Linked DNA regions of Homo sapiens: region 1 is linked to region 2. The links come from fine-mapping of genetic effects on plasma protein levels. Region 2 holds a variant in brackets. A gene starts in the other region. All regions are shown on their reverse strands.

Region 1 (3,067 bases), not on the chromosome of region 2:
AATTGGGGCAGGGCCAGTTTGGAAGGTCTCTGCTGTGGGCAGTGGAGGGGCAGAGAACAAGGCAGAGCCCAGCTAGGCCCCTACCCAGCCCATCAACTTTAACCTCTGATCCCTGACCTCCCTTCCAGGCTCTCTCCCCACTTGTCACTTTGCTGGAGCCTGGGGACCTGCATTTGTGGACATCTCTGTACACATGGCCTGTGCCCTAGCTGGGAAGGTCTTCCCAATGGGGAGCTGGCCAGTGTGGCACAAAAGCCTGCACTGGGCCAACAAGGTGGAAGGAGAAGCGGCAGGTGGACGGCAAGGCCCCAGCCTCCTTCTCTCCTCCGCCCCTCTTCCCGCCCAGGACTGGGTGGAGCCACTGCCTTATAAGTGGTGGCCTGGTGGCAGCAGAGCAAACTACAACCGGCGGCCAGCGGGACCAGAGGGCGGCTCTGCAGGCAGGCGGCAGCGGTGCCCTCAGTTCCCCAGCATGGCCCCCTCGGCCTGGGCCATTTGCTGGCTGCTAGGGGGCCTCCTGCTCCATGGGGGTAGCTCTGGCCCCAGCCCCGGCCCCAGTGTGCCCCGCCTGCGGCTCTCCTACCGAGGTACCAGCCCCTGCGTGCCCTGTTTGTGTGCATGTGCCCTGTTTGTGTGTGTGCGCTCTGTTTGGGTGCATGTGCCGTGTTTGTGTGCATGTGCCCTGTTTGGGTGCGTGTGCCGTGTTTGTGTGCATGTGCAGTGTTTGTGTGCGTGTGCCGAGTTTGTGTGCGTGTGCCGAGTTTGCGTGTGCCGTGTTTGTGTGCGTGTGCCGAGTTTGTGTGCGTGTGCCGAGTTTGCGTGTGCCGTGTTTGTGTGCGTGTGCCCTGTTTGTGTGCGTGTGCCCTGTTTGGGTGCATGTGCCGTGTTTGTGTGCGTGTGCCCTGTTTGGGTGCGTGTGCAGTGTTTGTGTGCGTGTGCCGAGTTTGTGTGCGTGTGCCCTGTTTGGGTGCGTGTGCCGAGTTTGTGTGCGTGTGCCATGTTTGTGTGCGTGTGCCCTGTTTGGGTGCGTGTGCCCTGTTTGTGTGCGTGTGCCCTGTTTGGGTGGCTTGGGCTCTTGGGTGCCTGGTCAGCTGTAGGGGAGGGAGCCTCTCCCTGCACAGCTCTCGGGGAGTGGGAGGGAGGCAGGTCCTGGGAGACAGGACCAGGGTGGCGGTGGGAGGCACCTGAGGGGGAGTGCTGAGAAAGGGACAGATGGAGACCCTGAGAGAGCTCAATAAAGATGGGGAGGAGACAGAGGAAGGGACCAGGCAGGGGAGAGTGACAGAGAGGGTGGGGCTGAAGGGTCTGTCTGGGCTCAACTGGCACTTTTTGCCCAGGGTGGCCAACGGGAGAGCAGGCAGCATGCTATCCCTTGGTCCTGGGGCCACAGAGAAGGGGAGGACCCCCCTTGCAGCCCACTTCCCAGAGTGGGCTTGTTCATGTGCTCCTGCACCCAAGAAGCGCCCCAGCCCAGGGGGAGTTTCACCTCCCCTTTTTGCACATCCCAGCCTGGGGGTTCCTGTGTTCTACCCTAGACATGTGAGCCGGCTCAGGCCTCCACGGATGGGCCCAGGGAAGGCCCGAGACAGGCTCTTGGCAGATCCTTCCTGAGGAAACCAGAGGGGTGACCACCTTCCCCTGGGAAGCCCAGTCTGCTGGGGGAGATGGCGCTCGTCCCTGGAGAGGCTGAGGGGAATGTGGTCTTGTTCCGGGAGCTGTGGTTTTGCGGGGAGGTCAGACTGCTAGAAAAAGCCCCAAATAGGGAAAGTTCCCCAAGGTACTGTCATCCATGGAGGGCTTCCCGGAAGAGACCGTTGATGAGTTTTGGGGGTGGAATGGGTGTTGGGTAGAGGTGCTTCCGTAGGGAAGGCATAGGACACTCTGGGCCTTCCCAAAGGTGGCCAGCACCCTCTTCCTGCCACATCCTACTGCCCCCATTACCTCCACCTCCCTAGCCAAGCCCGGAGGACCTACCTCAGGATCCTCAACTCCTGGGACCGATGTCCCCAGACAGCTCCCCGCTCTCATCTCTGGGGTGGGATAGCCAGCATCTGTGGGGAGAAAATTGTCTTTGGCCGCATCCCTGGACTGGAGGTGGGAGCCCTTCCCGGCCATACCTTCCCTTTTCTGCACCCAGGCCATTGCCAGGGGTCCCCTCTGCTGGGAACAGTTTCGCCTGCTGGCCCACCCTCCAGCTGAGCCAGGCGGCCTGCAAAGACTCCCGCCCTTCCTCCAGGATCTTCCAGCACTTTGCTCTAGTTTCTGCTGGTTGGGGCCTTCTTCCCTGGGGACTGGGTAGGGCACAGATGGGACAGTGGGAAGATGTTAGCTGCATGATGAAGGGCTAAGGAATGGAGGGGTGGGAGGTAGGCCCCAGGGTAGGCTGGGCCAGGTGGGAGGCTCTGAGCCTCCCGTCCCACCTGTCCCCAGGAGCCATGGTCCGAAAGCCTTCCAGCACCATGTGGATGGAAACATTTTCCAGATGTGAGTGTGTCAGGGGTGGATGCTCAGCCGGGGCCTCCACCTCCACTCCTTGGCTGGGGAACTAGGCTGAGCTGTGGCCCTGATCTGCCTCCCCATACATCCTCCTAGACCTCCTGTCTGCCAACCGCTCTGCCATCTTTCTGGGCCCCCAGGGCTCCCTGAACCTCCAGGCCATGTACCTAGATGAGTACCGAGACCGCCTCTTTCTGGGTGGCCTGGACGCCCTCTACTCTCTGCGGCTGGACCAGGCATGGCCAGATCCCCGGGAGGTGAGCTGGACTGGCAGGGAAGAGGGTCTGTTTGAGAACTGGGCACCTCCAGATGGGAGGCCAGATGGGGAAACTGAGCCTGTGAGATCAGGGGAGGACCTGAGGTCAGCGGGGCTGTGTTCCAGGTCCTGTGGCCACCGCAGCCAGGACAGAGGGAGGAGTGTGTTCGAAAGGGAAGAGATCCTTTGGTGAGTGCTGTCGGGAGGGATGGTCCCCCGACCTGACACCCTGCCCTGACCCCCAGGACAATCCGTGACCACGCCCCAGGTACCTCTACCAGGGGCATTTGGAGCAGATCTTGAGGGCTTTTGAAG
Region 2 (8,000 bases):
GATTTCAGGGAGGACAAGGGGTGTGTCTGATTAGTCTTGGTGTCCCCATCCCTTGGCCAGGGACCAAGCCTTAGAGGACTGGCTAAGATGAACCCCCACCCACATCCCAGGGTCTCCAGGCAGGGGACACCATTGTGGAGTTGGGTGATTACCGGTTCCATCTGCCTTGTAGTCGTCAGGGAGGAGCTTGTCCTGCCGGTAGCCCAACACGAAGGCCAGGAAGGAGAGGATGAGGGCGTCGCCAATGCTGAGGATGGCCAGCATGAAGGCCCAGCGGATGGTGCAGTGGCCCAGCGTGTACTTGCCCGTCTGCTCCCCACACATGCGCCGCACCTCACTTGAGTCCCAACCATCAGGGTAGACCAGGCAGCCAATCATTAGGCCTGTGGCTGAGGGGGAAGGAGGGGTGCACATGGCATCAGGCCGAGTGTGCCTAGCCCGCTACCTCCCACACCTTGCACTGCTGTTATGTTGTCACCTCCCTTCTCCTTCTGTTAACAGCCTCAGGAGGCATGAGAGGCAGCCTCTACCATCCTTCTTGCAGAACACAGGTGAGAAAACTGAGGCTCTGAGAGTTAAAGCAACTGGCCCCCGAGACCCAGTAGTTGGGGCGGAGGCAGAGCTGAGCTCCTAAGCCCAGGCCGGCTCTGCCACCACACCAGGTGGTCCTCCCAGGCCTTCAGCCATTCTCCTCACCTTGGACTCAACCAGGCACCACCTACCCTGGCTTCAAAGCCCTCCGGTATCTAGTCCCAGCCCAAAGAACTCATCACTGCTGAGATGTACATTTCTTCGTACTTACAACATCTGTGAAATAAGCTCAATAAGAAAGTGTCTAGCCTGGGGGTGGTGGCTCACACCTGTAATCCCAGCACTTTGGGAGGTCGAGGCGGGCAGATCACCTGAGGTTGGGAGTTTGAGACCAGCCTGACCAACATGGAGAAACCCTGTTCTCTACTAAAAATACAAAATTAGCAGGGAGTGGTGGTACATGCCTGTGATCCCAGCTACTGGGGAGGCTGAGGCAGGAGAGTAGCTTGAACCCTGCAGGCAGAGGTTGCGGTGAGCTGAGATCACACCATTGCACTCCAGCCTGAGCAACAAGAGCGAAACTCCGTCTCAAAAAAAAAAAAAAAAAAAAAGGAAAAGGAAAAAGAAAGTGTCAGGCCATGGCCAGATTATCAGTATATTTTGTTTTTATGGTACATAGAATAACAGTGTGTCCTACAACTCAGGTATCTTAGATTTAATGTATACAGGAAGGCTTTCCAGACTGTCCCTGGCTGCTTCCTTCAAAAGCCTTCCATTCAAGCAAACAGGTTTCCTCCTCACTCTTACCCAGTACAGCATAGTCCAGTTGCTACACGTCCCTAAATTTAAGAATCCCCTGGAGGCCGGGTGCGGTGGCTCACGCCTGTAATCCCAGGACTTTGGGAGGTCGAGGTGGACGGATTACAAAGTCAGGAGATCGAGACCATCCTGGCTAACACGGTGAAACCCCGTCTCTCCTAAAAATACAAAAATTAGCCGGGCATGATGGTGGGCGCCTGTAGTCCCAGCTACTCGGGAGGCTGAGGCAGGAGAATGGTGTGAACCTGGGAGGCGGAGCTACAGTGAGCCGAGATGGCGCCCCTGCACTCCAGCCTGGGCAACAGACCAAGACTCCATCTCAAAAAAAAAAAAAAAAAAAAAAAATGCTAGTTCCTAGGTCATGGTTGGGTTCAATAATCCCTGTTTTCAAAAGCACTCTTCCAGGTGATTTTCTCAGTAGGAAAAGCTGGGAAACACTAGACTAGGCTGCCTGGATTTCAAACCCAGTTCTCTGCTACCTAGCTATGTGACTCAGAGCAAGCAACTTAAGCTTTCTTTTCTTTTTTTTTGAGACAGAGTCTTGCTCTGTCGCCCAGGCTGGAGTGCAGTGGCACGATCTCGGCTCACTGCAACACCCGCCTCCCGGATTCAAGTGATTCTCCTGCCTCACCCTCCTGAGTAGCTGGGATTACAGGCATGTACCACCATGCCCGGCTAATTTTTGTATTTTTCATAGAGACGGGGTTTTGCCACGTTGGCCAGGTTGGTCTTGAACTCCTGGGTTCAAGTGATCCGCCGGCCTTGGCCTCCCAAAGTGCTGGGATTACAGGCGTGAGCCACCGTGCCCAGCCATACTTAAGCTTTGTTTGCCTCAGTTTCCTCATCTACAAAATGGACATAATAATAACCCTAACCTTCCTGTTGTGGTTACAGCAAGGTTCAAATGAGTTAATACTGGAAAAGAGTGTAGAACAGTGCCTGGCACAGACTTGGCACTCCATAAGAGTTGACTGTGAGAGTTATTATCACACCCTGTGCCTTACTTGACTTATTATTTACAGCTAAAAATTCTGTTGCCCCCACTTTCCCCCCACTTCTTCCATCCCTTTCCATCAAACCATCCCCTCACCTTAGCTTTGCTGGGGTGAAGCAGAGACAGGTGACATAATCCAGGATGCAACTGGGGCAGCCAGCCCCAGGCACAGCTGCCCCACGGGCAGGGGGTGCTCCCCTTATCTGTGCCACTTTCCCACAGGTCTGGAGGCTCTCTAGTCCCAAGGTTGTACCCTACTCAGGAGACCCTCAGAAAAGCACCTCTTCAGGCCTAAAGTTACCTTCCCTGCTTCCAGCTTGTTCTACAAAGAAGGTCAGGAGGTCAAACAAATGCACAGTAAATGGAAAAATCAGGGTCCCACCTCCCCACCTAAATGTATCACGCTTCCTTTGATCTTTTTTAGGAGAAGCTTATTTAGATAGTTCTTTATAGATCACAAAATACTTCATGTACCATCTTGACTGTGATCACCTTTCTGTGAAGTGGGCTGGCTATTAATATCCTCATTTTACAGATTAGAAAACTGAGGGCTCAAAGAAACCAAGTGACTTACCAGCCATCCAGTCATCCAGCTATGACAGGGCCAAGGCCTGAGTTCTCCATTCCTGACTTTCCTGACTTCAAAGTTTATTCCCTCCACCCCCAGAACATGACATCTCTCCCAGGGGCTGAATGTAATTAGCGGTGACATTTCAGACTTCCTACGTGTTCAGTGAAAACTAAGTGTTCAGGAAGATACCCACGGTGGAGGAGAGGGAGCCATCCACAGCTCCGTGGTGAAACCTACGTAGCCAGCCCTTCCCCGACTTGATGTGAGTCCAGCCCTCCAGTGCCTGGCAGGGCCCCTGGCTTCATGGGCAGAGGTGAAGGTGGGAAGGAGCTGCCCTTCCAGGCTTTGCATTCTCTCCATCACTTCCTCCCGTGGCCCCTCCCCTCCTGCACCATCTTCCTGTGGGGGCTCCGGAAAAAAGCCCAGGGCCTCTGACCTGGAAACAGGGTGTTGGTGCCACAGTCCCCTGCGAGCACTCTACCCATCCACCCACGGTTCTGGGGACAGTGGGTGTCAGCCCCAGTTGTGGCATCTCAAGGCTCTAAGCAGAAGCCAGCACAGTGTTCTCAGGCCAGGTTACTTACCCTCTCTGACTTCCGTCCTGTTGTCTGTAAAGTATCTGACTCATAGCAGCACT[G/A]TGAGGATTAAGTGTGATCATTTACAGAAAACGCTTACTATGATGTCTTGTACATGGAAAGTGGCCAATTAATGTTAGTCACTGCTATTATTATTGACATTGGAGTCAGACAGAAGCCACCTCAGTGACATGGATGCCATTAGAGCTGCTCACGAATATTCCAGGTGCAAGGCAAGGTTGTACTTCCTTGCTCCGCTCTCTTGAGGTTAAGTGAGGCCATCTGCCTTCCTCTGGCCAATGACATGTGAGCAGAGATGTGTGTATTTCCGGGCCACAGCACTTAGCTGCAGTGGGAGACCTCCCAGAGTTCCCTTCCCTCTGATGCGAGGACAGCTGATGGTGACTGATGCCACTAGCGAGGGTCCCAGGAGACAACAGTGAGAGCGGAGCCCCCACCGATCCCCGGTTGGCACGGACCATAAGCAAGAAATACATAAACCGTTGTTCTAAGCCACCAAGATTTGGGAGTGGTTTGTTACTACGGCATCACTTCTCATGCTCACTGATATAGTTGTTTCTTGTGTTTTTCTTTTCTTTCTTTTTTTTTTTTTTTTTTGAGACGGAGTCTCACTCTGTCGCCCAGGCTGGAGTGCAGTGGCGCGATCTTGGCTCACTGCAAGCTCTGCCTCCTGGGTTCACGCCATTCTCCTGCCTCAGCCTCCCAAGTAGCTGGGACTACAGGCGCCCGCCACCAAGCCCAGCTAATTTTTTATTTTTGTATTTTTTTGTATTTTTTGGGGGGATTATCCCCTGCCCACAGGGCAGCTGTGCCTGGGACTTTCCCAGTTGCATCCTGGATTATGTCACCTGTCTAATTTTTTTGTATTTTTTTGTAACACGGGGTGTCACTGTGTTAGCCAGGATGGTCTCGATCTCCTGACATCATGATCCACCCACCTCGGCCTCCCAAAATGCTGGGATTACAGGCTTGAGCCACCATGCCCAGCCTGTTTTTTGTGTTTTTCACAGGTACTGAGCACTTACCATGTGCAAGGTGTTTTACATGCATTCTATTATCCCATCTTCACAGAACCCCCCTGAAGTGGGTACTGCTGCTATGTTCTACAGATGGGGTACAGTGGAATGTTTGTTCCTCCCAGATTTCCTGTGTTGAAATCCTAACCTCCAGTGTGATGGTGTTAGGAGGTGGGGCCTTTGGGAGGTGATTAGGTCATGAGGGTAGGGCCCTCCACGAATGGGATTGGAACCCTTATAAAAGGGACCCCAGAGGGGAGCGGGGGCAGCTAAAGGTTGGTTAATGGATACAAAAGTATAGCTAGACAGGAGGAGTAAGCTCTAGTGTTCTTTAGCACTGTAGAGTGAGTATAACCAACAGCAATCTATCGTATATTTTCAAATAGCTGGAACAGCAAATTTGAAATCGTCCCAACTCAAAGAAATGTTTTAAGTGTTTGAGGTGATGGATATGCTAATTACCTTCATTTTCTCAGTAGGAAAAGCTAGGAAACATTAGATCAGGCTGCCTGGATTTCAAGCCCAGCTTGTATACATGTATCGAAATATCACACTGTAGCCCATAAATATGTACAATTATTATGTCAATTAAAAACAATAATAAGGCCGGGTGCGGTGGCTCACGCCTGTAATCCCAGCACTTTGGGAGGCTGAGGCAGGCAGATCGCCTGAGCTCAGGAGTTCCAGACCAGCCTGAGCAACATGGTGAAACCCCATCTCTACAAAAAATACAAAAATTGGCTGGGTGTGCTGGCATGCACCTGTAGTCCCAGCTACTCGGGAGGCTGAGGAGGGAGGATCACTTGAGCCTGGGAGGTCAAGGCTGCAATGAGGTGTGTTCATGCCATTGTACTCCAGCCTGGGTAAAAATAATCATTTTTGAGACCTTGACTCAATAATAATAATCATCAATGCAAATAAATACATAAAAGGGACCTCAGAGAGCCCTGTCATCCTCTTTTCACCATGTGAGGACATCAAGAAGTCAGCAGTCTAGAGCCTAGAAGAGGCCTTCATCAGAGATCTCGTGCTAATGCCATGCCGGCACCCAGATCTCAGACCTCCAGGCTCCAGAACTGTGAGAAATGAATTTCTGTTGTTTTAAGCCCCCTAATCTATGGTAATTTGTTATGGCAGCCCTGACTAAATAGAACTAAGTAAAACTGACTAAGACATGAGGTTACCAAGACTCAGAGAAGACAAGCAGTTTGGTCTACCTGTGTTTCTAGGAGCTGGGACAACTCCCAGCCTACACCTGGCACCCAGAAGCCCAATTAATCTTGTTAAGCTGCAGCCCCACATCGCCCAAGCATCAGTCCTCCTTGCCCCTGCCCCCTCCCTGTTCCCAGGCTTCTTGGCAAGGGTACTAATGAATAGATGTATCTCCCAGCTGCTGGATATGGGACCCGCCCACTCTGCATCTCTCCCTTCGGCTCATTTCCCCTTCCGCAGCACAGCAGAATGGAACATGACACCAGTCTTGCCTTCCCTAACATAAATGTTGCATGAGATGGCACCTGGCCACCTCTGCTATCAGTGTCTCCAGCTTTTCTACCCAGATAGTGTCTGACTCAGATGGCCTGTCAACCCCTCCCCCTCCTGGCACTGCCTGCTCACACATGGCACCTGTTGGGGGATGTTTCAGGGAAGGGGGGTTTGCAGACAGCCCTGAGAATGAGAGAGATGGTTGTGTCTCCAGCATCCCATAACCCTGATAGGGAAGAAGAGCTGGCAAGCATATTAGGGTCTATTTCACTCCTCTTTGGCATAAAACTACTAAATCTTCATTTTCCCTTTGTTCATATATATATATATATATATATATATATATATATATATATATGTATAAAATGAATATATAGTAAAGAATATATATATATATACTCAATATTTTTATTAACCCAGCTAATTTTTGTATTTTTTGTAGAGACACAGTTTCGCCATGTTGCTCAGGCTGGTCTCGAACTCCTGAGCTCAAGCAATCTGCCCACCTCGCCCTCCCAAAGTGCTGGGATTACAGGCCTGAGCCACTGCAGCTGGCCTTATTATTATTTTTATTTATATATATTATTTATTATGATTATTTTTAATTTATATATATATATATATAAAATAGAGATAGGGTCTCACTATGTTGTCCAGGCTGGTCTTGAAGTCTTGAACTTCTGGCCTCAAGCAATCCCCTCTCCTTGGCCTCCCAAAGTGCTAGGACTACAGGCATGAGCCGCTGTGCCTGCCCCCACCATCATTCTTGACATGGCCACCACCTACCTTGCTCCCCACTGCCCACCCCTGCCCCGGCCTCTCTCTTATCATACAGAGAGACTACAGAGAACAGGGAGGTGGCAAGGGGATTTGCTGGGAACTCTGAAGCCATGTGAGTAGCCTGGGTGCAAGATTTGGAATCAAAGGTGCATGCCTTCCTACTTGTATGCTCAAAGACAAGTTACCCACTAGGGGCCTTCTTTGTAAAATAGATAAATACCCACCTCAATGGGTTGTGCTGGGGCTCCTCCAGATATTATATGTAAAGATATTTCATAGATCATTATACTTATGTAAATATGTGGCTCAGTAAAAACATCTTAGGAATACATCTAGTTCCTTGGTCCTCAGTTGCCCGCTTAATTCTTCCTGGTCCTCAGGTGCCTGCTGATCTGCTACAGCCTTGGCCAAGTCTGGTCCTTTCTCTCAGCAGCAGATTCCTCATCTATAGTTGGGGGGTGGATATAGCTCTCTGGGGTCCCCTCCAACTCTGCAGTCTTGAATCTGCATGTTTGGTGGTCTGGGATTCAGATGCCTGTTTCAGTCTCCCTCTTAAAGATGACAGCACTTCTCATTCTGACCAATGAGATGGTTTCACTCTAGTTTCCAGTCCCCGGCACTACTCCTGGACATCTCACCGACATGGACAGTTTGTGGCCCCTGAGGTGTGCAGGGACCAAGGTACCAGAGGCTGCAGCACAAGGTCTTAACCCTCTTCCTGGGCTACAGAGAAGAGCAAGACCACTTGGCACAAGGACCAAGAAGCCTTCCTGAGCTAGAAGCAGGAAAAAGGACCAGGGAGGTTTTGCCTCAAGGCACAAGTAGCTGCCTACCCCACAGTTTTATTTGTTTTATTTTATTTATTATTATTATTATTATTTTTAGAGACAGGGTCTTTCCATCTTGCCCAGTCTAGTCTCAAACTCCTGAGCTCAAGTGATGCTCTCTCCCAAAGTGCTGGGATTACAGGTGTGAGCCGCTGTGCCCAGCCCCCACATTGTTTTAAAGGACCCTAGGCCAGGTGCTGTGGATCACATCTGAAATCCCAACACTTTGGGAGACTGAGGCAGGCAAATCACTTGAGCCCAGCAGTTCAAGACCTGCCTGGGCAACATGACAAAACCCCGTCTCTACAAAAAATACAAAAAAAATTAGCTAGACATGGTGGTGCGCACCTGGAGTCCCAGCTACTTGGGAGGCTGATGTGA

Alleles and levels. Alleles are on the strand shown, and positions count from the first base shown. The strength of an association depends on the size of the effect and on how common the allele is.
As copies of G replace A in region 2, the plasma level of the protein whose gene starts at base 397 in region 1 goes down (moderate association).

Evidence for each region. PIP is the chance, under the fine-mapping model, that this variant and not a neighbour inherited with it causes the effect. The UK Biobank Pharma Proteomics Project read protein levels with antibody pairs (Olink). The fine-mapping took linkage between variants from a reference panel, not from the people measured, so its PIPs are less certain.
Region 1: it holds the start of SEMA3G, and the variant in region 2 is fine-mapped to the plasma level of the SEMA3G protein (UK Biobank, PIP above 0.99).

The regions. Positions count from the first base shown.
Region 1 is chr3:52,442,433-52,445,499 of GRCh38, reverse strand. It overlaps SEMA3G (semaphorin 3G), which reads left to right and starts at 397. Exons shown (of 16, transcript NM_020163.3): 1 at 397-587; 2 at 2,593-2,753; 3 at 2,879-2,941. The coding sequence starts at 473. RefSeq lists enhancers at 1-423, 424-1,300.
Region 2 is chr6:35,806,935-35,814,934 of GRCh38, reverse strand. It overlaps LHFPL5 (LHFPL tetraspan subfamily member 5), which reads right to left. Exons shown (of 4, transcript NM_182548.4): 2 at 153-389. Among named protein-coding and RNA genes, the nearest start is that of LHFPL5, 5.6 kb to the right of the region's middle. The variant G/A (reference allele first, on the strand shown) is at 3,553.